Homo sapiens: one gene and its partners. The protein of the gene in region 5 purifies or fractionates together with the protein of the main gene of each other region. This does not show direct contact. Each region holds a gene or a part of one and is shown on either strand. Other genes may lie near its edges.

Evidence for each region.
Region 1: the proteins of RBM25 (region 5) and PRP4K purify together in Homo sapiens (affinity purification with mass spectrometry; 2 studies listed by BioGRID and IntAct, with this or other methods). This does not show direct contact.
Region 2: the proteins of RBM25 (region 5) and ACAP3 purify together in Homo sapiens (affinity purification with mass spectrometry; one large-scale study listed by BioGRID and IntAct). This does not show direct contact.
Region 3: the proteins of RBM25 (region 5) and UPF2 fractionate together in Homo sapiens (co-fractionation; one large-scale study listed by BioGRID). This does not show direct contact.
Region 4: the proteins of RBM25 (region 5) and CPSF7 purify together in Homo sapiens (affinity purification with mass spectrometry, with the first as the bait; one large-scale study listed by BioGRID). This does not show direct contact.
Region 6: the proteins of RBM25 (region 5) and POC5 purify together in Homo sapiens (co-immunoprecipitation; one large-scale study listed by IntAct). This does not show direct contact.
Region 7: the proteins of RBM25 (region 5) and PPIL4 purify together in Homo sapiens (affinity purification with mass spectrometry, with the first as the bait; one large-scale study listed by BioGRID). This does not show direct contact.

Annotation. Positions count from the first base shown.
Region 1 is NC_000006.12:4,055,800-4,059,299, forward strand, and holds part of PRP4K (serine/threonine-protein kinase PRP4 homolog), read left to right. Parts: exon of another isoform or gene 1-453; intron 454-521; coding exon 522-636; intron 637-727; exon of another isoform or gene 728-889; intron 890-1,236; coding exon 1,237-1,388; intron 1,389-2,928; coding exon 2,929-3,015; intron 3,016-3,500. UniProt on the Homo sapiens protein: Serine/threonine kinase involved in spliceosomal assembly as well as mitosis and signaling regulation. Connects chromatin mediated regulation of transcription and pre-mRNA splicing.
Region 2 is NC_000001.11:1,301,431-1,304,930, forward strand, and holds part of ACAP3 (arf-GAP with coiled-coil, ANK repeat and PH domain-containing protein 3), read right to left. Parts: intron 3,383-3,500; exon of another isoform or gene 3,299-3,382; coding exon of another isoform or gene 3,252-3,298; intron 2,714-3,251; coding exon 2,656-2,713; intron 1,852-2,655; coding exon 1,732-1,851; coding exon of another isoform or gene 1,702-1,731; intron 1,546-1,701; coding exon 1,492-1,545; intron 617-1,491; coding exon 558-616; intron 1-557. UniProt on the Homo sapiens protein: GTPase-activating protein for the ADP ribosylation factor family.
Region 3 is NC_000010.11:12,029,310-12,032,809, forward strand, and holds part of UPF2 (regulator of nonsense transcripts 2), read right to left. Parts: intron 216-3,500; coding exon 1-215. UniProt on the Homo sapiens protein: Involved in nonsense-mediated decay (NMD) of mRNAs containing premature stop codons by associating with the nuclear exon junction complex (EJC).
Region 4 is NC_000011.10:61,423,476-61,426,975, forward strand, and holds part of CPSF7 (cleavage and polyadenylation specificity factor subunit 7), read right to left. Parts: intron 1-3,500.
Region 5 is NC_000014.9:73,110,534-73,114,033, forward strand, and holds part of RBM25 (RNA-binding protein 25), read left to right. Parts: intron 1-297; coding exon 298-622; intron 623-775; coding exon of another isoform or gene 776-891; exon of another isoform or gene 892-994; coding exon 995-1,269; intron 1,270-1,618; coding exon 1,619-1,717; intron 1,718-3,500. UniProt on the Homo sapiens protein: RNA-binding protein that acts as a regulator of alternative pre-mRNA splicing. Involved in apoptotic cell death through the regulation of the apoptotic factor BCL2L1 isoform expression.
Region 6 is NC_000005.10:75,700,438-75,703,937, forward strand, and holds part of POC5 (centrosomal protein POC5), read right to left. Parts: intron 2,374-3,500; coding exon 2,168-2,373; intron 1-2,167. UniProt on the Homo sapiens protein: Essential for the assembly of the distal half of centrioles, required for centriole elongation. Acts as a negative regulator of centriole elongation.
Region 7 is NC_000006.12:149,536,044-149,539,543, forward strand, and holds part of PPIL4 (peptidyl-prolyl cis-trans isomerase-like 4), read right to left. Parts: intron 1-3,500. UniProt on the Homo sapiens protein: PPIases accelerate the folding of proteins. It catalyzes the cis-trans isomerization of proline imidic peptide bonds in oligopeptides.

The DNA of each region.
Region 1 (3,500 bases), on a different chromosome or scaffold from region 5:
TAATATTTTTTAGACTTGAAGTGATTGCTAAATTTGGGATCATATAGCAGCTTCGGATGAAGAATATTTTGTTTTTGTCCAAGTTTATTCTGAATCACCCTTCTGCTTTCATTGCCATTGTAATTCTCTGGCAACTGAAAGTTAAGTCTGATTCCTTAGTTATAAAACTTGACTTTATTCAGGTATTCAGGGTCTTTTTAGAAGATGCTTTGCTTCATGAAATTAGATTTTTCTCTCAGTACCCCACCCTTTTAAAAATGCAGTTGTTAAAATTAAATGTACTTTGTGATATCCATTTCCTCACTGAAAACAGTTTTTACTCATTGTAATGAATATTTGATACATATTAACTTTTCATAGTTAGGAAATTGAATTAAAAATAAATAGAAAAGGAATTTTTAAATGAATGTCTTTGTTCTCAGTATTGGAATTAATAAAACTTTTCAAAGCCAATAATTTTTATTTATTTGTATTAATTATTCCTGGCTTGAATTAAATTCCCTTGAAAAAATGTTTTGCAGGTTAATGAATCCAAAACTATTTTAAAGCTTTGCGATTTTGGGTCGGCTTCACATGTTGCGGATAATGACATAACACCTTATCTTGTCAGTAGATTTTATCGTGCTCCTGAAATCAGTAAGTTTCTTAATGTTCTTTGACCTGGGCCATCATATGTGGTGGAAACCGCATACTTAATGTCTAAGCACTGTTTTCCATCACACTTCAGCAGCTGCACGAGTTCATTCATGAGGAAGGGAACCATAGCAAGTTCATCCTCCTCAGGTGGAATGAAGGTAGTTGTGACAGGAGTCTTGATCATGTCGGGCAAGAGTAGCAAAACAGTTGTGGAAAATCCTCGACTTTAGAAGACTGCTCTTGATTATTCAAGGTCTGATTATCACATTTATGGATTGTATGGGACCTTTGTTTTTTCCTGTTGCCTTGGTTGAGGCTGATTAGCACCTCCACCAAAGGCGAAATGAGAAAAGAGAAGAAATACATATTTTCTTTTGCCCTTTAAGTTCCTCCCCTACACCTCCATTTTTTAAGGTTTTTAAGTTTGAGTCTCTATTAAGAATTAGTGGGAAAGAACACAAAACTAATTGTCAAACTAAGGCATGAAGATTGTGGTTATAGTCCAAGCTAAGGTAGCCAGCCCCTCATTAATGGAAATAAAAATTAATAGTCGTCAGTTTTCTCTATCCTCGTATATTAAAACTTTGATTTTGTTTTCAGTTATAGGTAAAAGCTATGACTATGGTATAGATATGTGGTCTGTAGGTTGCACCTTATACGAACTCTATACTGGAAAAATTTTATTCCCTGGCAAAACCAATAACCATATGCTGAAGCTTGCAATGGATCTCAAAGGAAAGATGCCAAATAAGGTAAGACATTAGCATGAGCTTCTTTAAGGTCTTAGTTTCTTATTAACTGACAAGACTGCTGACACTTGCTCACCACTAGTGAGCTATAAAACAAAAATTTCAGAAAGGTGGGTAGATGGCTATCATGATTTCTTAGGGTCTTTCCCTTTTCTGGTGTTTTAAATTAGTGGTTCTAATCAGCCAAGCGCTAAGGATAAGAGAACTTGTTCAATGATGGACAGAGAGCAGCAATATTTTGGGGATACACCCTTATGGGTAAAAGTTTCAAAATGTTTGGAAGACAGAATGGAAAAAGATGTAAGTTGAATTAGGTAAAATACAAGAACATGCTTAGTGGTCAGAGAATGAATAGGTGAATATTAGATATTGTAAGAGGAACTTGATGTTAATTAATTTATTAAAGATTGGAGGTTATTTGAGAAAGTAAGGTACCTTTCTTGGTACCTTTTCTTATTTAATATCTTTCTAACTCACCGCTGATACTTCAGCTATAATGCTAGTTTCTGTTTAACATGAAGCAAGAATGTAAGCATTTATTAAAGTATCTGAGGGCCATAACTTAGCTTTTTTTTTTTTTTTTTTTTTGAGACGGAGTCTTGCTTTGTCGCCCAGGCTGCAGTGCAGTGGCGCGATCTCAGCTTACTGCAAGCTCTGCCTCCCGGGTTCATGCCATTCTCCTGCCTCAGCCTCCCGAGTAGCTATAGGCATGAGCCACCGCACCCGGCTGTAACTTAGCTTTTTAAGATTTCAGCCTATTTGCTGAATTTCTAAAGATTTACACATTTTTCGTAAAGGTCAGAAAACTGTATGGTTTTCAGTTGTGTTTTGTTGTTGTTGTTGTTTTGAGACTGGATCTTGCTCTGTGTCCCAGACTGGAGTACAGTTATAGCTCACTGCAGCCTTGAACCGAACCCCTGGGCTCAAGCAGTTCTCCTGCCTCAGTCTCCAATGTAGCTGGGACTACAGGCATGTGCCACCACAACCAGTTAATTTATTTAATAATTTTTTTGTAGAGATGGAGTTTCACTATGTTGACCAGGCTGATTTGTACATATTGTCCAAATTCTATTAGGTTGGACTTTTTTTAGAATAAGTTACATAAAAATGAGCTATGTTGGTATTAGTTTTAATGAAGTCTGACCTGTATCAGGGCTGTTGGAACATAATTAGTAAAGTGGCATTAGGTTCCCTAACTGCCAAGGAGAAAAAACCTGAGTTTTGTGATATTTTTAGGAAGAAATAATTTAAAGTCTTTGTTGACTCTCCAATTTTAAATAGTGAAAGGACAATTTGATGTTATAATTGTTTTAAGTCACTGCCTGGACAAATATAATTTCATGTTATTAAGTAGTTTTAGGTACAGCATTGGTATTTGCTTTTGCAAAGATGTTAATGAATTCCTGGGATCAAGGGAATCTGAGATCAAACAAACCTACAGAGACTAAATAACATACTTATTTGACTTATTGTATATTAATTAAATTGTTAGTAGGCCTGTTTCATAATAGTTCAAAACCCAAGTTTTTGTTTTGTTTTGTAGATGATTCGAAAAGGTGTGTTCAAAGATCAGCATTTTGATCAAAATCTCAACTTCATGTACATAGAAGTTGATAAAGTAACAGAGAGGGTAAGTGTTTTAAATGCAGCATGCAATAGTTATTTTATTGTTAACTGAGTACTAAATCATACGAGCTGGTGAATTAAAAAAAAAACAAAAACCCAAAAGTAAGTATTTCCTTTTTGCTGTCGACCAATTCCTAAATAAAACACATCAGACCATGGAAAAGATGGAGGGATTTTAAAATGTTTTTCTAGCATAATTAATTTATTTTTATTATAGGTCATATTTAGGCCCTCGTCACATCTTCTTTGGATTACTTTCTTGGTCTGGCTTCCCATCCAGCTTTCTTATTGCTGCTAGAGTGATGTTTCTGAAAACATATCTGGTCATGTTCCTATCCCTGCTTAAAAACCTTTGTTGGCTCCCTGTTACCTATGAAATAATATTTAAGTTCCTCAGAATGACAAATCCAACTGCTTTCTTCAGTTTTCAGACCTCTCTTCAGTACATTCAGAACCCCCACCTTTCCACATTTGGCCAGAAGGCGTGCT
Region 2 (3,500 bases), on a different chromosome or scaffold from region 5:
TTTTTTTTTTTTTTTTTGTAGAGATGGAGGTCTCATTACGTTGCCCAGGCTGGTCTCAAACTCCTGGCATTCTCTGGCCTTGGCCTCCCAAACGCTGGGATTACAGGTGTGAGCCACCATGCCCAGCCCCACCCCCCTCCACTCCAGGCCCTTTCTTTGCTCCTGGGCATAGCCTCCTTCCTCACCAGCCTATCCCAGGCCTGCCCGCACCCCTGCTGACCCCGATCATCTGCTCCAGGCCTCCCCAGCCCCTCCCCACCTCACTCTCAAGATCTGTCCAGCCCAGACCCCAGCCATGCCCCAGACTCCAGACCCCCAAACCCAACGTGGACTGGACCTCTCTGCTGTGGGGGCTGGACACCCCACCCACACATGCAGGGTGTGGAACCCCCCGCACTCCACCCGGCTGTCTGCCTCTGAGCCTTCTGCCTTGTGGAGCCGCTGCACAGCCTGGAGGCCTGGGCCCAAGGTGCCTCTGCTCTGCCCCAGACCCCCTTCCCCTCCAAGGGAGGGAGCGTGGCCTCAGTGTTCTTCCCCCAGCCCTGGGGGCCACTCACTCTTTGACAAAGCTCTGGAGCTGCTGCCGCACGGACCTCTGGGCCTGGTCAAACAGGATCTGGGGGCAGAGGCGGGCAGAGATCCTTGGGGTCTGTCCCGAAAGAGCCCCAGATGGAAGGCCCCATCCTCACCAGCAGAGGGCACTGCCCCCAGGCCCAGATGCAGGGGCGGGTCCCACCCTGCAGGGCTGGCCTCAAGGGGGTCAGGGGAGCAGCCCCCAGGCCTGAGTTGGCACTCAGAGGCGATGGCTGTCACCCCTGCCCCTCTGTCCCACCTGGCCCTTGATGAGTGCAGAGGCCAAGGCTGCCTCATCACAGCCTGAGCCGGAGCCCCACTGCCTCCTGGCCCTGGGCGGCCACCCTGGGGTGCCCATCCCTGCAGCAGGGAGCACTCAGCCAGAGCCGGGAGCACCCAGGGGCTGGGCCTGGGGAGCTGGAGCCTGGGCTCTGAATCGGAACCCGAAGTAGAGAAGGACCGGGCACAACCAGGAGCAAAGGGACGGCTGAGCCATCCTGCCTTGTCTACTTCGGGACCTCCTCTGTTCAGTCTGCGGCTCAGGTTCCCAGGCTGCAGCCCCACATCTCACGGGTGCCTGTCCTGTGTGTCCATCCACGTCAGTGCCAGGGCCCCCGGGGGCCACCCAGACCCAAATGGCAGCCAGGCCAGCCTGGGACGAGAGCCCTGCCCAGTTGGGGGAACCCTGGATAAACCACCCCTCCCCCAGGGTCTAGTGTGGCCCTTGCCTGGGACACGGCAGAGCCCCCAGGGCTGTCCCCCAACCCCACACTGACTTGAAAATGTGGGATTCCCCCCCCCCCCGACTAGAGGAGCAGAAACGTGCCCCCCCCAACCCGACGCCGGCCTTCAGGTGAGCCAGCGCAGCTCGGTTCCAGGCCAGGCACAGCCCACAGGTGGCAGGGAGGCCGCGCTCACCATGTGGTAGTTCACCACCTCCTGTAGGCTGTCAGCGAACCTCTGCAGACATTCCTGGAGGAGCAGATGGGAACCCGTGCTGAGATGGCAAATCCGGGCCCAGGTCACCCAGCCACGCCCTCTGAGCCCCTGGGCGGTGCAGACACCGGCCTGCTTCTGGCCTGGACGCCCTCAAGGGGCTGCCTCCCTCGGCCTCTCCCCCAACCCCACCTTGAGGTCAGAGGTCAGTCGGCCCCTCACCGAGATGACGGTGTCGCCCTGGCACTGCTGGGACAGGTCGCGGACGCCGCTCACGAAAAGCCTGCTGGTGCTGACGTAGGCCTTACCGGCTTCCACCATGCCACTGCACAGCTTCACCAGCTGTGGGCCAGCGGGGCGTGGTGAGCACAGTGGGCACTGGCGCCTGCACTCGCCACCACACACGGCCACTCAGAGGCAGGAAGAGCTCCCAGGGTAGGTTCCACTCAGGGCGTTGGCACTCAGGACTCAGTGCCCCGGTGCAGCTTCCTCACGCCTGGGCCTGCCTGGGGCTTGGAGGCCCGTCTGGGAGGGGAGGGTGGGGCCGCCACGGCTCGGCTGGGAGGGACCAGGAGCCAGGCAGGGGACCCAGGGCCAGCAGGACCAGCAGAACCAGCCCATGTGGGGCTCATGGATAAGGCTGCCCACTCCCAGCTCCACGGCCTGTTGCCCCCTCCTCTTTCTCAGCCCATGTGGGGCTCATGGACACGGCTCCCCTCTCCACGGCCTGTTGCCCCCTCTTTCTCAGCCCATGTGGGGCTCATGGACACGGCTCCCCCCTCCACGGCCTGTTGCCCCCTCCCCTTTCTCAGCCCCAGCCCCAGCCACACCAAGGCTCAGCCCACACAGCAGCTGTCCCCGTGTCACCAGCCCAGCAGAGGGGACGGGCAGCCACCGTGGGTCGGGGACTCACCACAGCCCAGCCCCTCCCAGATGGGACGAGACTCAGGGCCAGCCACATGTGTGCATGTGACATGTGCACCCTGGAACACACATGCTAAGACACAGGGACCAGGACCTGGAGCACCACACGCATGCTCCACATATGGGGGGTGTAAGTGGCTTAGTAAGGCCTGGAGGGCGAGTCTGGCCATGTGGCCATCCCAAGCTTGGCCGGGCACAGGGCGCTCCAGGCCCGCCCTTCACCTTGTCCAGTTTGGCCTCAATCTCCACCACGTCCGTCTCCACCTCGTCAATGGTCGCCCTAAAGCAAGAACGGGGCTGGCTGGGGTCACCTGCAGCCTCAGCCCCCTCGGGGCTTCACCTCCCCCCGCACCTCCCTGAGGGGCTCCACCATGGGAAGGGGCTTTCAGGAAACAGGCTGGGAGACAGACGCCTGCCTGCTACGGGGGCAGGACTGGGACCAGGTTCAGTGCACTTCCCCCCGCCCCCCCAACCCCAGGCAGGCAGAGGCAGCCGCTGCTGTGCCCTCGGGGAAGAAGGCTGGACCAGCCTCTCCCAGGACAGCCGGCCGCTGGGAGTCCCTCAGGGACAGTGCCCACCAAGGGCTGAGCCAGCCTCACCCGCCTCTCCTCTAGGAGTTCAGAGTCAACCCTGGACCCATCTGGAGCCCCTCAACCCTGCGGCACCTCCCCTCACCCCACTGCACTACTGCAGCCCATCCAGGTCTGGCACCCATGCACTGTGGGACAGGGTGGGGGCAGTAGGGCAGCTGCTCTCGGTCCTGGCAGCACCAGGAGGACCCAGACCAGCTGGGGAGAGACGCCCCCGGCTCCCCCAACCTCACAGCTGCAAGCGGCATGGTCCGCTGGAAAGACGGGTAGGCCATCCTCCTCAGAGCCCACTCCCACCAGGACAGCCTGACAGTGGGGCTGCCTGGGGAGAGAAGAGTTAAGGCATGACATCACCAGAGAAGCCTCGGCGGGAGAATCCCCGGAAGACAGGAGGCAGATGGATCGGGCACGTGACCACCCCCTCCGGGAGCAGGCAACAGGGAAACAGGGCCAGGATCCCGGCAGCCCTCCACACAA
Region 3 (3,500 bases), on a different chromosome or scaffold from region 5:
TAAAATCATGGGACAAGGAGTCTCTCTGTTGTTCTGTAATAGTTTTTAGTTTCTTGACAAAAGCAGTATTTTTCTTCAAACTTGAGTCGAGGCGGCTGAAGAAGTTTTCCTCTGGTCGGCTGTCCGGAGCATTTTGGTTTTTGCTACGAAGTTCCTTTCTTAAATGATGTCGTTCCCAAGCTTCCTGATGAAGCTGAATGGATTCTTCTTTTTCTCTATATAAAAACAAACAAATAAATAAAATACTCTCTACATTTTGAAGCATTATACACAAATCCCCTAAGAGTAAAAAGCCAATGAAAAAAATTATCTAAGTATAACAATCTACAAGATTCAAAAGGCCTTTCACTACTTTTAAAGACATTTTACTGGCCAGGCATGGTGGCTCATGCCTGTAATCCCAGCACTTTGGGAGGCCAAAGCAGACAGATCACCTGAGGTCAGGAGTTCAAGGCCAGCGTGGCCAATATGGTGAAACCCCACCTCTACTAAAAATACAAAAATTAGCTGGGCGTGATGGCGCTCACCTGTAGTCCCAGCTATTCAGGAGGCTGAGGCACAACACTTAAACCCAAGAGGCAGAGGTTGCAATGAGCCAAGAACGTGACACTGCACTCTAGTCTGGGCGACAGAGCAAGACTCCGTCTCAAAAAAAAAAAAACAAAAAAAAAACACATAAAGACATTTTACTAACGACTAACGATAACAAGTATTATCTTAATGAGAAGCCCAGTACTGGAGGTCGATAACAAATGTCATAGAGCAGAGGATACTGACACTAGATTAAAATTAAAAATCATTCTGCCAACTGGCAAGCTAACTAGGTAAGACATATAATGCTACTGTGAAAAATATAGTATGTTTGGGAAGGATGTAAAATGTGAAACAAATAAAAGCAATGGGCAAAGAGAAAAAAAAACAATTATACACAAAGAATTATTTAAAGAATTAGCACTACAAGACCAGATGTGGTGGCTCCCAGCACTTTGGGAGGCGGGTGGATCACCTAAGGTCAGGGGTTCGAGACCAGCTTGGCCAACATGGTGAAACCCCGTCTCTACTAAAAATACAAAAATCAGCCAGTCGTGGTGGTGGGCACCTGTAATCTCAGCTACTTGGGAGGCTGAGGCAGGAGAATTGCTTAAACCTGGGAGTCGGAGACTGATGCTGCAGTAAGCCAAGATCTCCCAACTGCACTCCAACCTGGGCAACAGAGCGAGACTCTGCCTCAAAAAATAATAATAATAATAATAATAATTAGCACTATAAAAGAATGCATTAAAAATGTTTTGAGGCCTGGGCAGTGGCTCACGCCTGTAATCCCAGCACTTTGGGAGGCCGAGGCAGGCAGATCACGAGGTCAGGAGATCGACACCATCCTGACTAACATGGTGAAACGCCATCTCTACTAAAAATAACAAAAAATTAGCAGGGCATGGTTGCACGCGCCTGTAGTCCCAGCTACTCAGGAGGCTGAGGCAGCAGAATTGCTTGAACCCGGGAGGCGCAGGTTGCCGTGAGCCAAGATCATGCCACTGCACTCCAACCTGTGTGACAGAGCAAGACTCTGTCTCAAAAAAAAAGGCCAGGCACGGTGGCTCATGCCTGTAATCCCAGCACTTTGGGAGGCCGAGGCGGGTGGATCACGAGGTTAGGAGATCGAGACCATCTTGGCTAACACAGTGAAACCCCGTCTCTACTAAAAATACAAAAAATTAGCCGGGCGCAGTGGCAGGCACCTGTAATCCCAGCTACTCAGGAGGCTGAGGCAGGAGAATGGCATGAACCCGGGAGGCGGAGCTTGCAGTGAGCCGATATAGTGCCACTGCAGTCCGGCCTGGGCGAAAGAGCAAGACTCCATCTCAAAAAAAAAAAAAAAAACAAAACAGTTTTGCAATGTTAGATATTGTTTTTCCATCCTCAGCACATTAGCCAAACCTTTAACAAAGTACCTTGCTATGTTTGGGCTCTTAAAAATTCAAGTGATTTAGAAAATTTGGAAAGGAACCAGAAGACAACTATCAAATAAGAAACTTAATAAAAACCTAGTAGACTCAGTTTATACTGAAAAGAATAACCAAAAACAAATATACCTATTTTTCCACTAAAAAGACAGAACAAGTTTAAATTGCAGAAGTAATAAAATAGGCACGAGTGAGGGGCAACAATCTGATTTTGAAGTTTATTGAAGTTTTTGAGATAACAAAACACATAACTTAAATCTCCACTTTGTGAAGCTGAGGTGGGAAGAGCCCAGGAGTTAAGACCAGACTGGGCAACATAGTAAGACCCAATCTCTACAAAAAAATTTTAAAAATTAGCTGGACATGGTGGCACATGCCTGTAGTCCCAGTTACTTGGGAGGCTGAGACGGGGGGATCGCTTGAGCCCAGGAGGTTGAAGCTGCAGTGAGTCATGATCACACCATAGCTCTCCAGCCTGGGTGACAGAGTGAGCCCTGTCTCAAAAAGTTATACGCATATCTATAAATCTCTAAAAAAGTACATTTTCATCTTTCTGAGATAATCACCCCTGAGTTATAAGATAATTATTTGATTTTTCCATTAAAAGCTACAATATATTAACAGAAAGGTGGCCTCTATCACTGAGAACATGGACAGTTGAGTATCTCTTTGAAGTCTCCCAGCAACACACAAATACAAAATGAGCAGTGAAAGTACATTTTAAGAAAGTATGTACAAGGCTGGGTGCCGTGGCTCACGCCTGTAATCCCAGCACTTTGGGAGGCCAAAACGGGTGGATCACCTGAGGTCAGGAGTTCGAGATCAGCCTGACCAACATGGAGAAACACTGTCTCTACTAAAAATACAAAAATTAGCCGGGCATGGTGGCACATGCCTGTAATCCCAGCTACTCGGGAGGCTGAGGCAGGAGAATGGCTTGAACCTGGGAGGTGGAGGTTACGGTGAGCCGAGATCGCGCCATTGCATTCCAGCCTGGGCAACAAGAGTGAAACAACTCTGTCTCAAAAAAAAAAAAAAGAAAGAAAAGAAAAGAAAGTATGTACATACATTAAATAACTCAATTTTCAGCTGCATTGAAAACACTTATATATCGAAGTTTTTATGGGTAAATGCTATGATGCTCTACAATACTCCAGGGGGAAAAAGTGGGTAATTATTGATGCTAGGTAGATGGGGGACTAGTTCACTATACTATTCTATTTTTGCATATATCTGAAATTTTCCCAGGAGCTCAGGAGTTCAAGACCAGCCTGGGCAACACAGCAAAACCCCGTCTCTACAAAAAATACAAAAATTAGCCAAGTATGGTGGTATGCATCTGTAGTCCCAGCTACTCAAGAGGCAGAGGCGGGAGGATCACTTGAGCCCAGAAGGCAGAGATCGCAGTGAGCCAAGACCAGGCCACTGCACTCCAGCCTGGGTGACAGAGCAAGACCCTGTCTCAAAAAAAAAAAAAAAAGACTCTCTTAAGAATCATGGTTCTGAATATTCCAAAACTAGGCACTACTATAGCTT
Region 4 (3,500 bases), on a different chromosome or scaffold from region 5:
GAAATCTTTTTAAGGATTAGACAAGCATTTTATTTTTATTACAAGAATTAGACAAAACATTCAAACAATGCTAAAGATAATGCTGCCAAAATGACAGAGACAGCAAGTAGTTCAGTGTTTTAAGGATGCTACGGCAGTTTCATATTGCTATTCTTTTAAAAAGGGAATAAAGGAGGCACCTAAGTTGGGAAACTTGTCTAGTACCCTGAAGAAACAGTTTCTCCAAGGCAACTAAAGACAGGCGGCTCCCTTAACTTTCTCCCTCCAATATCACGGCAATAACTGCTAATTCTGAAGTGATCTGAAGACGACTCACTAAAAAATTTACTCTTAGACCAGTCCTTGTATTATAAGAACCTTTGGAAACAATCTTTCAGTTTTTCAGTTTATCTGAAGTACAGTGGAAGAAAATGCACACTAAGAGAATAATCTTGGGTTGTTCTGATAGAGAAGGGGGAAGGATTCTACTTCCTAAAGCATATAAATAATTTCAAATATTAAAACACTCTAAGAAACCCACCAGGAGGGCTTAACCCTTGTAAAAACGTTAGAAAAAGAATATCAAGAGACAGTAAACTTTTAGGGGGCAACTTAACAACAAGAAATTAGTGAGGCAAATAAGCACAGGAAGCTTGTTCCATGTAGTCAAATCCATCAAAAAGGATTGTGCATAAAAAGGGTCAGCATGTAAAGAATGAGGAGAGAAGCTAACACTGGAGAGGACAGGGTGGATAATAAAGTAAGGTGAGGTCAGCTAGGGCTAATGAGTGGGAAAACATTTTGTGTGTAAGTAATCACTATAAAATATTTCATAGCTGTTACGTCTCAAACTATCCCAACTCTATAGACAAATCACTCTTCTATTCATGTACCAGGTATGGTGAGTTGCTCCTGTGGTTCAAGGTAGAGAAAGGATTTATATACATCACTTGATCCCATCCAATGCTCAAATCCTTAGAAAGCACTACTTCACACCAAGATTCTTCTTTTTTTCTGAGATAGAGTCTCACTTTGTCACCCAGGTTGAAGTGCAGTGGCGCAATCTTGGCTCACTGCAACCTCCGCCTCCTGGGTTCAAGTGATTCTCCTGCCTCAGCCTCCCGAGCAGCTGGAATTACAGGTGTGCACCACCACACCCAGCTAATTTTTGTATTTTTAGTAGAGATGGGGTTTCACCATGTTGGCCAGGCTGGTCTCTAACTCCGGACCTCAGGTGATCCTCCCACCTCAGCCTCTCAAAGTGCTGGGATTACAGGCGTAAGCCACTGCACCCAGCCTTCTTTTTTTTTAAATCAAGGATTTTCAAATGACACGTAAACAGAATAAGGAAACACATCATCTTGGATAATCGAATGGAACCAAACTGAGATTCCCTTCCATGCAGTATCTGTAATTCAGGTATATGTGTCTAAAATTTGTAATGTAAAAATGATCACTGAAAATTGAGTAGTGGACTAACATGCAGATTTGGACAGCTCAGAGACCAAATGCATCACCAGGAAACCCTTCGTACTATATGCTTAGGCAACCAATCCACTGTTTTAAGATCCCTTAAGAATAGGATAGACTAGATCCTGGAGAATCTTGGTATGGCTACCACTTTTAGAAACAAAAGGATTGAATGAATACAAAATTATCACAAGATTTAAATGGTCTCTCTGGGCCACAGAGCCTCAGTTCAAAGAAGCTGGTGGGAACTGCACAGGGCAGGTCTGTTGAGGGTTCTACTGAAGAAACAAGGTATCAAATTGTTTGGATTTTAATCCCCCAGCATCACAATTCATTTTACTTGTTCAGCTAGTAAGACAGAAACACAGTTAAGGGCCGGAGATTTTTCTCAGCGGATTTATGCAGTAATAGATTAAAGTAAAATCAAATTCTACAAATTAAGTGAAAAGTACATTTTACATGCACTGATGTTCAAAGTTTCATTCCAGGGAGATTAAACATGAAACATATATTTAATACTGAATAACTATCTCAAAGAATTTTGTGTTTAATGGCACAGAAAGAACTGTGACTGTCTCATGAAACTTCCTGCTTCCCTGTAAACAAAAGAGAACATGTGTGATTTTCAATTTAAATAAGATCTTCTCCACTTGTCTGCTCAGTGTTCCTAACCTCCACCCTCTTCTTCCTCATATCCCACTGAGGGAAGTAACTAGCCTAGGATTTATTTTTCTCAGAGCAACCAACTTGATACCATTGTTTCTTTTAATTGTAACCAAGGCTTAATCAAAAATTTTGGCTTTATAATGACCATTTCCACAGTTCCCACTTCACACCCTCCTTGTCCTTCACTGTACATTGTCGTTGTCCACCACCCCTACCCACCAGGAGTGGAATCTGTTTTGAGTACAGGGACCCACTTTTTTTTCCTTTTACCTCACTAGTCCTGGCACAGTGCTTAGCAAACACAAGTAGCTCAATAAATAAATACTTATTGATGGACATAAGGAAGAGAACTGGACACTGTGCAAAGCCTGTCTCAGTATGAAAAGCCAAAACTCCCAGCAGAGCAACTGATCTCAGTCACCTTTCCAGAGTTCTCCCTGGCCCAAGAGAGCCAATGTGAATCCCAGGACTCCCTGTGTTACAGGAATAAAGTAGCTCTGGCAAAAACAGGCTTTTGCAGCAAATGCTCTAAGAGATCAGGGAATAAGCACCATAGGGTTCCATCTAGGAAAAATATTAATTTTCCTTGAGGAGCAAAGTGCACATGAAGGGCTTCCTGTGCATGGGCCAGCTTGGGGCGAAATCAGTAACATTCTTAAAACATTCTAAAACACAATTTGTACTGGGTGCCTTCAGACTAAGCCAGCTTCTAACAATTCTAGCCAAAGTTTTTTTGTTTTTTTGTTTTTTAAATAATTTCTGTAGCTTCCAGATGACACTAACACTAACTTTGTCAAAAATAACTAATTGATATGTGTGTGGGGGGGAAGCACTCATCCCTCACCTTCCACAAAACATAAGATATTCAAAATTCACACTTTCTTCAGCTTGCCTAGTGTCAAATATTGCCCGTTGGATATATGTATCTATTAAAGTCCACATACTACCTTTAGCCTGTCTTAGACCCATAAAAAAGTCCTTTTTAACTGAGGAGACCAGAGAACAAACTATTGAGGCCAATAACTTATACTCTAACAAAGCAGTGACCACTGGACAATGAGTTCTGCGTATTTCTCAAAGTGAAATGAATGGCACTATTATCAATCCACAGATAAGAAATTAGAAGGGGAAAAGCTTTTCATTAATAACAAAGGTGGCTGGGTACGGCGGCTCACGCCTGTAATCCCAGCACTTTGGGAGGCCGAGGTGGGCAGATCACAAGGTCAAGAGATTGAGACCATCCTGGCCAACATGGTGAAACCCCGTCTCTACTAAAAATACAAAAATTAGCTGGGCATGGCGGTGCGCGCGCCTGTAGTCCCATCTACTCAGGAGGCTGAGGCAGGAGAATCATTTGAACCTGGGAAAAGGAGGTTGCAGCGAGC
Region 5 (3,500 bases):
TTCTCCTGCCTCAGCCTCCTGAGTAGCTGGGATTACAGGCGTGCACCACCACACCTGGCTAATTTTTGTATTTTCAGTAAAGACAGCGTTTCACCATGTTGGCCAAGCTGGTCTCAAACTCCTGACCTCAGATGATCTGCCCACCGCGGCCTCCCAAAGTGCTGGGATTACAGGCATGAGCCACCATACCTGGCCTTTTCTCTTTTCATAAAGATATTTTACAAGAGGTAATGTAAAACAAAAATCAAGTTGAATGGTGTAGAGTTGTAGTTAATCAGATTATTGTTTGGGTTTTAGATGGAACAAGAGGCTGAGAGGCGCAGGCAGCCACAAATAAAGCAAGAGCCAGAATCAGAAGAGGAGGAAGAAGAAAAGCAAGAAAAAGAAGAAAAACGAGAAGAACCCATGGAAGAGGAAGAGGAGCCAGAGCAAAAGCCTTGTCTGAAACCTACTCTGAGGCCCATCAGCTCTGCTCCATCTGTTTCCTCTGCCAGTGGCAATGCAACACCTAACACTCCTGGGGATGAGTCTCCCTGTGGTATTATTATTCCTCATGAAAACTCACCAGATCAACAGCAACCTGAGGAGCATAGGCCAAAAATAGGACTAAGTCTTAAACTGGGTACGTTAGCATTTCCTTCCTTCTTTATTTTCTTCCCTTCACCCCTGCAAATACCTGTATTGTGCTTTAAAGAAAAAAATTTATATTTGTGCTTGGTTAGGTAGATAGAAGATTACTAAAAAATGCCTTTCTAGCTCACGATTGTTTTCATAGTTTTACTAGTGCTCCTATATCTGCAGCTGCCTCGAGTTCTGAGAAGAAGTGAAAAGTTTAATTTTCTAGCACTTGTGAGTAGTGAGTTATTTTTTACAGTTGGGATCTTTCTCTAAGATTTGTGGAAGTATATTTTGCATTGCTTTTGAGGGATGGTGGGTTATAAAATGAAACATTTGGAAATTAAGTCATCTTGCTAAGAGAGTGTTTTTACTGTAGGTGCTTCCAATAGTCCTGGTCAGCCTAATTCTGTGAAGAGAAAGAAACTACCTGTAGATAGTGTCTTTAACAAATTTGAGGATGAAGACAGTGATGACGTACCCCGAAAAAGGAAACTGGTTCCCTTGGATTATGGTGAAGATGATAAAAATGCAACCAAAGGCACTGTAAACACTGAAGAAAAGCGTAAACACATTAAGAGTCTCATTGAGAAAATCCCTACAGCCAAACCTGAGCTCTTCGCTTATCCCCTGGATTGGTCTATTGTGGATTCTGTGAGTAGGAAATTATATTTCATCATATTATTGGGAACAGTTGGAATATGCCATACAAATTCATTTGAAGAAAAAAAAACCTCATTTGATTCTATTAATGACAAATAAGTAGGGATGATCATCTTGACACCAACTCAATGCCATGGTCAAGAAATTAGTAATAATGGAAATTTTTTTTGTGCTACTTGAAGACTTACTAAAAGCAGATGATTGTATCTTGATACATATCTGTCTTAGTTCAACTTGTGAAATAACATTATATTTTAGTCTCAGGAAAAATCATGAAGCTTTAATAACTGTTATAGCAAGTTACAATTCTTTAATTCAGTAACCGTGGTTTGTTTTGCAGATACTGATGGAACGTCGAATTAGACCATGGATTAATAAGAAAATCATAGAATATATAGGTGAAGAAGAAGCTACATTAGTTGATTTTGTTTGTTCTAAGGTTAGTCTTCTATTCTCTTCCATGCCAGCATTTATTTTATATATTAAAATATTAGACACTTCTTAAAAGAGCAGAAATTTTACAGAGTCAAGTTCCATGATGGTTTAGGTTCAGTTAAGTGATTTATATCTGCTTTTTTAAAGTTATTTTTATTTTTGGTGTGTTTTTTTTTATTCACTGCAGTGGATGCAGATTTATGTCTGCTTTAATGAACCTTTCCATCCAACTTCAGACTCCTCACACCACATGTTTTTATTTCAGTGGTCGAGGAGGATGGAATTGCTGGTTACTGCCAATTGTGTGCTGTCTTTCTGCCCCTGAGAATGCTGTGCCATCTTCTTCTTGTCTTGGTTGGAATAATTATGTTGAGATTTTTTGGACGTAGCCAATATCTTTTCCCAACTCCTTTGTCAGTCACCCATCCTTTGGATAGGATCAAAATAGTTCCTTTCATATCGTAGTAACGATCAGTGTTTATTGACTGACAGGCTGTGTTCTCGGCAGGTATTGTGTTAGTTTTGTTTGTTTTGTTTTGTTTTGTTTTTTGTTTTTTGTTTTTGTTTTTTCTTTTGAGTCGGAGTTTTGCTTTGTCCTACAGGCTGGAGTGCAGTGGCGCAATCATGGCTCACTGCAGCTTTGAACGCCCAGCCTAGACTGATCTTCCTGCCTTAGTATCCTGAGAAGCCGGAACTATAGGCATATGCCACCACACCCTGCTAATTTTTTTTTTCTTTTTTTGTTTTAAATTATACTTTAAATTCTAGGATACATATGCATAACGTGCAGGTTTGTTACATAGGAGTACATGTGCCATGGTGGTTTGCTACACCCATCAACCTGTCATCTACATTAGGTATTTCTCCTAATGCTCTCCCTCCCCTAGCTCCCCACCCGCCGACAGGCCCAGCTGTGTGATGTTCCCCTCCCTGTGTCCATGTGTTCTCATTGTTCAGCTACCACTTATGAGTGAGAACATGTGGTGTTTGGTTTACACCAGGCTAATTTTTTGTATTTTTAGTGGAGATGGGGTTTCACCATGTTGGCCAGGCTGGTCTTGAACTCCTGACCTCAAGTGATCTGCCCAAGTTGGCCTCCCAAAGTGCGGGGATTACAAGGCGTGAGCCATCACACCAGCCGAAGATAAAGTTCTATAAAATGTTAACAAGACAGTGGCCCACGCCTTGTAATTCCCGCACTTTGGGAGGCCAATGGGGCAGAACACTTGTGGTCACGAGTTTGAGACCAGCCCGGCCAATATGGTAAAACCCCGCCTCTACTAAAAAGTCAAAAATTGGGTGCGCTGGGTGGCAGGCACCTGTAATCCCAGCTACTCGGGAGGCTGAGGCAGGAGAATCACTTGAACCCGGGAGGCGGAGGTTGAAGTGAGCTGTGATTGCGCCATTGCACTCCAAGCCTGTGTGACAAGAGTGAGACTCTGTCTCAAAATAAAAAAAAAGAAAAAAGAAAAACTTCTTTTAACCTAACACTTAGAATCTGTCTGTCATGAATGTTATACCCATTTTATACATGAAGAAATTGAAGTTTAAGGAGAGATTGTGTCTTGGCTATGTTTTATACTGAGTCTAGCCTCTGAAACCCATGCTCTTAACCACTAAGGTATATCTTCCCATTGTCTCCTGAAAACATAGTCTTAACTTTAATAAAACAGTTAACATAGTAGAAACACCATATTTCTATAAAGGTATAGCTATGGTATTTTTTTGCCAGTAGTGCTCTTTTGATATTATGAACAGTAAATTTACTCTGTCTTCTCTAACTTGTA
Region 6 (3,500 bases), on a different chromosome or scaffold from region 5:
TGACAAACCTGAGAAAAACAAGCAATGAGGAAAGGATTCCCTATTTAATAAATGGTGCTGGGAAAACTGGCTAGCCATATGTAGAAAGCTGAAACTGGATCCCTTCCTTACACCTTATACAAAAATCAATTCAAGATGGATTAAAGACTTAAATGTTAGACCTAAAACCATAAAAACCCTAGAAGAAAACCTAGGCATTACCATTCAGGACACAGGCATGGGCAAGGACTTCATGTCTAAAACACCAAAAGCAATGGCAACAAAAGCCAAAATTGACAAATGGGATCTAATTAAACTAAAGAGCTTCTGCACAGCAAAACAAACTACCATCAGAGTGAACAGGCAACCTACAAAACGGGAGAAAATTTTCACAACCTACTTATCTGACAAAGGGCTAATATCCAGAATCTACAATGAACTCAAACAAATTTACAAGAAAAAAGCAAACAACCCCATCAAAAAGTGGGCAAAGGACATGAACAGACACTTCTCAAAAGAAGACATTTATGCAGCCAAAAAACACATGAAAAAATGCTCACCATCACTGGCCATCAGAGAAATGCAAATCAAAACCACAATGAGATACCATCTCACACCAGTTAGAATGGCAATCATTAAAAAGTCAGGAAACAACAGGTGCTGGAGAGGATGTGGAGAAATAGGAACACTTTTACACTGTTGGTGGGACTGTAAACTAGTTCAACCATTGTGGAAGTCAGTGTGGCGATTCCTCAGGGATCTAGAACTACAAATACCATTTGACCCAGCCATCCCATTACGGGGTATATACCCAAAGGACTATAAATCATGCGGCTATAAAGACACATGCACACGTATGTTTATTGCGGCATTATTCACAATAGCAAAGACTTGGAACCAACCCAAATGTCCAACAATGATAGACTGGATTAAGAAAATGTGGCACATATACACCATGGAATACTATGCAGCCATAAAAAATGATGAGTTCATGTCCTTTGTAGGGACATGGATGAAACTGGAAATCATCATTCTCAGTAAACTATCGCAAGAACAAAAAACCCAACACCGCATATTCTCACTGATAGGTGGGAATTGAACAAGGAGAACACATGGACACAGGAAGGGGAACATCACACTCTGGGGACTGTTGTTGGGTGGGGGGAGGGGGGAGGGATAGCATTGGGAGATATACCTAATGCTAGATGATGAGTTAGTGGGTGCAGCGCACCAGCATGGCACATGTATACATATGTAACTAACCTGCACATTGTGTACATGTACCCTAAAACTTAAAGTATAATAATAATAAAAATAAATAAATAAATAAATAAATAAAACCCACTTACTATTTCTGCAATACTTTGTTTTACTTAAAGGCCAGTAGTATCAAAATAAAAATCAACTTTTATAGTTTTATCACTTACACATCATAGTTGCTATAGGAGTGGCTATAAAATGAATATCCATTGCTAAAATTGGATCTTTCGTTATTGCATAAAAGGAGACATTTCTATTAGTCACAACTACGATATGGTAAAGGCACAGTATGTCTCAGTTACACACAGGCTGAGCCATTCAAAGTATCTGTGAAATTCAATGGAGCATGTAGAACCGTTCCAGCAACCACTTAAAACCTGGCAACTCAAAGTACAGTTTCTGAACCAGTAGCAACACCTGGGAGCTTGACAGAAATGAGAACACATGGACACATGGAGGGGAACATCACACACCGGGGCCTGTCAGGGGGTGGAGGGTAAGGGGAGGGAGAGCATTAGGACACATACCTAATGCATGTGGGGCTTGAAACCTAGATGACAGGTTGATAGGTGCAGCAAACCACCATGGCACATGTATACCTATGTAACAAACCTGCATGTTCACCACATGTATCCCAGAACTTAAAGTAAAATCAAACAAACAAACAAGAGTCAAAAAAAGAAAAAAAGAAGCACGATCTTAGGCCCTGCTGAAGACCTACTGCATATGAAGCTGTAGTTTAACAGGCTCCCGCTATGATTCGTAAGTACATTAAAGATTGAGAAGCAAGACTTAAGACACTAAACTGATCTCAGGAAACAAAAGATTTTTAGAAAGTTTAACTCAAAAAAACAAAACAGTATAAATGAGAGTAAAACTATTACATTACATACTAAACAACTGTAATTGAAGAACTGCTGTACCGTACCTTAAGACCTGAACTCCAAAGATCAAGCACATTTTCCATCTTCTGAAGGTTTTCATCAGAAACAAGAAAATCGCTCACAAGTATTTCATGGGCATCTGTATGACTAGAATTTGTTGCTGGTGAGGAAGAGTCAGCTAAAAGATGTGAACTGAAAAAATCCATGACTGGGTGAGAAGGCTTCCTTGGCGATAACACTGGTGATGACTCTGAATAAAAGAAAAGTTGTAGCTGTCAAGCCAAATTGAAAATAACTCAAGTTGGTAAGGAACCATACTGGAAGGCTAAAAGACGTCTGCTACTTATGGAGGCTGAGAAAAAATGCAGAGAAACTACCTTTCAGGTGTACCTTAATCTATTTTTAATTTCAGTATTGTCAGTGATTTAGCACAGACTGGCATGAGATACCTCCTATACTCCCAATCCCTTCTCTCCCAGCAAATGACCTCTATCCCAGATAAGGATCCTTCATATATCCAGGTCCAGCCTGAGGTGAAACTATCATCATCTGTATCATATCACCATTAATGAAGTGCTTTCTGTTTCTGTAATAAAAACATTATAAAGATTAGTTCTCATAACACATGCTACCCTAAAAAATAGGTATTATTATCTCCATTTTACTGATGAGAAACTGAGGTTCAGAAAAAGTTAAGTAATTGACCAAGGTCAGTGTGGTTGTATATAGGTCAATATTACTCTGTAAGTTTAACACTGGGATTGGTTTTAATACTATTAAAATTCGGCCGGGCGCGGTGGCTCATGCCTGTAATCCTAGCACTTTGGGAGGCCGAGGCGGGTGAATCATGAGGTCCAGAGATTGAGACCATCCTGGCCAACAAGGTGAAACCCCATCTCTACTAAAAATACAAAAATTAGCTGGGTGTGGTGGCACGCACCTATAGTCCCAGCTACTCGGGAAGCTGAGGCAGGAGAATTGCTTGAACCAGGGAGGCAGAGGTTGCAGTGAGCCGAGATCGTGCCACTGCACTCCAGCCTGTGACAGAATGAGACTCTGTCTCCAAAAACAAAAACAAACAAAAAACCTATTAAAATTAAACAATTTAAGTAGAAAGAGACTCATAATTTAGTTTTGCAGATACTCTGTTGTTAAGTACACTGTTAGGCTTCAATGTAGAGGTGAGAAATGTACACATCTCTATATGTATGTGCATATATATAAAACGCTCATCCCCTGCCCATATCCAGGGAGGTGGGGGAGAGTCAGGGCCCTAAAGAGAACAGGTATCTATTTCTAAAAAAGCACTGAAAGGCTGGGCACGGTGGCTCATGCCTGTAATCCCCGCACTTTGGGAGGCTGAAGTGGGCGAATCAT
Region 7 (3,500 bases), on a different chromosome or scaffold from region 5:
GGTGATTCTCACAAGATTTCAAACTTTTTCATTACTATTGTATCTGTTATTACCATCTATAATCTTTGATCTTACTACCGCAATTGTTTTGGGGCACCACAAACTGTGCCCATATAAGATGGTGAACTTAATCCATAAATGTTGTATGTGTTCTGACTACTCCACCAACCAGCCATTCCCATCTTTCTCCCTCTCAGTGCTCCCTATTCCCCGAGACACAATACTGAAATGAGGCCAATTAACCCTACAAGAGACTCTTAAGTGTTCAAGTAAAAGGAAGAATGGCACATCTCTTACTTTAAATCAAAAGCTAAAAATGATTAAGCATAGTGAGAAAGGCACGTTGAAAGCCAAGATAAGCGGAAAGCTAGGCCTCTAGTACCAAACAATAGCTGAGTTGTAAATGCAAAGGAAAAGTTCTTAAAGAAAATTAGAAGTGCTATTCCAGTGAACACATGAATGATAAAATGAAACAGGCTTACTGCTGATATGAAGAAGGTTTTAGTAATCTACATAGGTCAAACCAGCCACAACGATCCCTTAAGCCAAAGCCTAATTCCAAACAAGCCCTAACTTTATTCAATTCTATAAAGGCTGAGAGAGGGAAGGTAGCTGCAAAAGAAAGTCTGAAGCTAGCAGAGGTTAATTCATGAAGTTTAAGGAAAGAGGCCAGGCGCAGTGAATTACTCCATCTCAAAAAAAAAAAAAAAAGAAAAGAAAAATTTAAGGAAAGAAGCTGTCTCCATAATTTAAAAGTGCAAGGTGAAGCAGCAAGTGCTGACACAGAAGCTACAGCAAGTGGCCAGGTGCAGTGGCTCACGCCTATGTAATCCCAGCACTTTAGGAGGCCGAGGCAGGCAGATCACAAGCTCAGGAGTTCAAGACCAGCCTGACCAACATGGTGAAACCCTGTCTCCACTAAAAATACAAAAGTTAGCCAGGCATGGTGGCGTGTGCCTGTAATCCCAGCTACTCAGGAGGCTGAGGCAGGAGAATTGCTTGAACCCAGGAGGCGAAGGTTGCAGTGAGCTGAGATCATGCCACTGCACTCCAGCCTGGGCAACAGAGTGAGAATCTGTCTCAAAAAAAAAAAAAAAAGAAGCTGCAGCATGCATCAAGTTATCTGGAAGATCTAGCTAAGATCACTGATGAAGATGACTTCATGAAATAACAAATTTTCCATGAAGACGAAACAGCCTTATATTGGAAGATGCCACTTAGGACTTTCACAGCTAGAGAGGAAAAGTCAATGCCTAGCTTCAAAGCTTCAAAGACAAGCTGACTCTTCTGTTACATGCTAATCCAGCTGGTGACTTTAAGTTGAAACCAATGCTCACTGACTATACCAAAAATCCCAAGGCCGTTAAGAATGATGCTAAATCGGCCGGGCGCGGTGGCTCACGCCTGTAATCCCAGCACTTTGGGAGGCCGAGGCGGGTGGATCACGAGGTCAGGAGATCAAGACCATCCTGGCTAACACGGTGAAACCCCGTCTCTACTAAAAATACAAAAAATTAGCCGGGCGTGGTGGCAGGCGCCTGTAGTCCCAGCTACTTGGGAGGCTGAGGCAGGAGAATGGCGTGAATCTGGAGGTGGAGCTTGCAGTGAGCAGAGATTGCGCCACTGCACTCCAGCCTGGGCGACAGAGCAAGACTCCATCTCAAAAAAAAAAAAAGAATGATGCTAAATCTATTCTGCCTGTGCTCTAGAAATGGAACAACAAAGCTTGGATGACAGCACATCTGTTTACAGCAGGGTTTATCAAATATTTTAAGATCACTGTTGAGACCTGCCGCTCAGAACAAAGATCCTTTTAAATATGACTGCTCTTTTAATAAGAAATCCTTTTAAAATATTACTGCTCATTGACAATACTCCAGGTCACCCAGGAGCTCTGATGGATATGATGTACAAGGAAATTAATATTGTTTTCAGCTGTGCACAGTGACTGACACCTGTAAACCCAGCACTTTGGGAGGCTGAGGCAGGTGGATCACTTGAGGCCAGTTCAAGACCAGCCTGGCCAACACAGTCAACATGGTGAAACCCCATTTCTACTATAAATACAAAAAATCAGCCGGGCGTAGTGGTGCACACCTGTAATCCCAGCTACTCAGAAGGCTGAGGCAAGAGAACTGTTTGAACCCAGGAGGCAGAGGTTGCAGTGAGGTGAGACTGCACCACTGTACTCAACCTGGGTGACAGAGTGAGAATCTGTCTCAAAAAAAAAAAAATACTGTTTTCATGCCTGCTAACATAACAGTCATTCTGCAGCCATGGATCGAAGAGTAATTTCAACTTTCAAGTATTACTATTTAAGAAATACAGCCTGACATGTGGCATGCACCTGTAGTCCCAGCTACTCAGGAGGCTGAGGTAGAAGGATCACTTGAGCAACGTAGTGAGGCCCCATCTCTAAAAATAAAAATTAAAAAAAAATACATTTTGTGAGGCTATAGCTGCCATAGATGGTGATTCCTCTGATGGATATGGGCAAGTACATTGAAAACCTTCTGAAAAAGATTCACCATTCTAGATGTCATTAAGAACATTCGTGATTTGTGGGAGGAGGTCAAAATATCAACATTAACAGAAGTTAAGAAGAAGTAGATTCCAACCCTCATGGATGACTTTGAGTGGCTCAAGACTTCAGTGAAGGAAGTAACTGCAAATGTGGTGGAAACTGCAAGAGAACGAGAATTAGAAGTAGAGCCTGAAGATGGGACTGAATGCTGCAATCTCATGATCAAACCTGACCAGATATGGAGCTCCTTCTTAAGGATGAGCAAACAAAGTGGTTTTCTTCCTTTTTTTTTTTTGTTTGAGACAGTCTTGCTGCATCGCCCAGGCTGGAGTGCAGTGGTGCAAAGTCGGCTCACCGCAACCTCCACCTCCCAGGTTCAAGCAATTCTCCTGTCTCAGCCTCCCAAGTAGCTGGGACTACTGGCGCCTGCCACCACGCCGAGCTAATTTTTGTATTTTTAGTAGAGACGGGGTTTCACCATACTGGTCAGGCTGGTCACAAACTCCTGACCTCAGGTGATCCGCCCCCCTCAGCCTCCCAAAGTGGTGGGACTACAGGCATGAGCCACTGCACCCAGCCAAGTGATTTACTGAGATGGAATCTACTGCTGGTGAAGATGCTATGATAACTGTTGAAATGACAACAAAAGGTTTAGGATAGTACATAAACTTGGCTGATACAGTAGTAGCAGGGTCTGAGAGGATTGACTTCAATCTTAAAAGAATTCTACTAAATGCTATCCAACAGCATCGTATGATACACAGAAATCTTTCATGAAAGGAAGAGTCCATCAACATGGCAGACTTCTGTTGTCTTATTTATTTATTTATTTGCAAGACAAGGTCTGTCACCCAAGCTGGAGTGCAGTGGTACAATCACAGCTCACTGCACCCTTGACCTCCTGGGCTCTAGTGATCCTCCCACCTCAGCTTCCCAAGAAGCAGGAACTACAGCCCTGTACCACCATGCTCAGCTA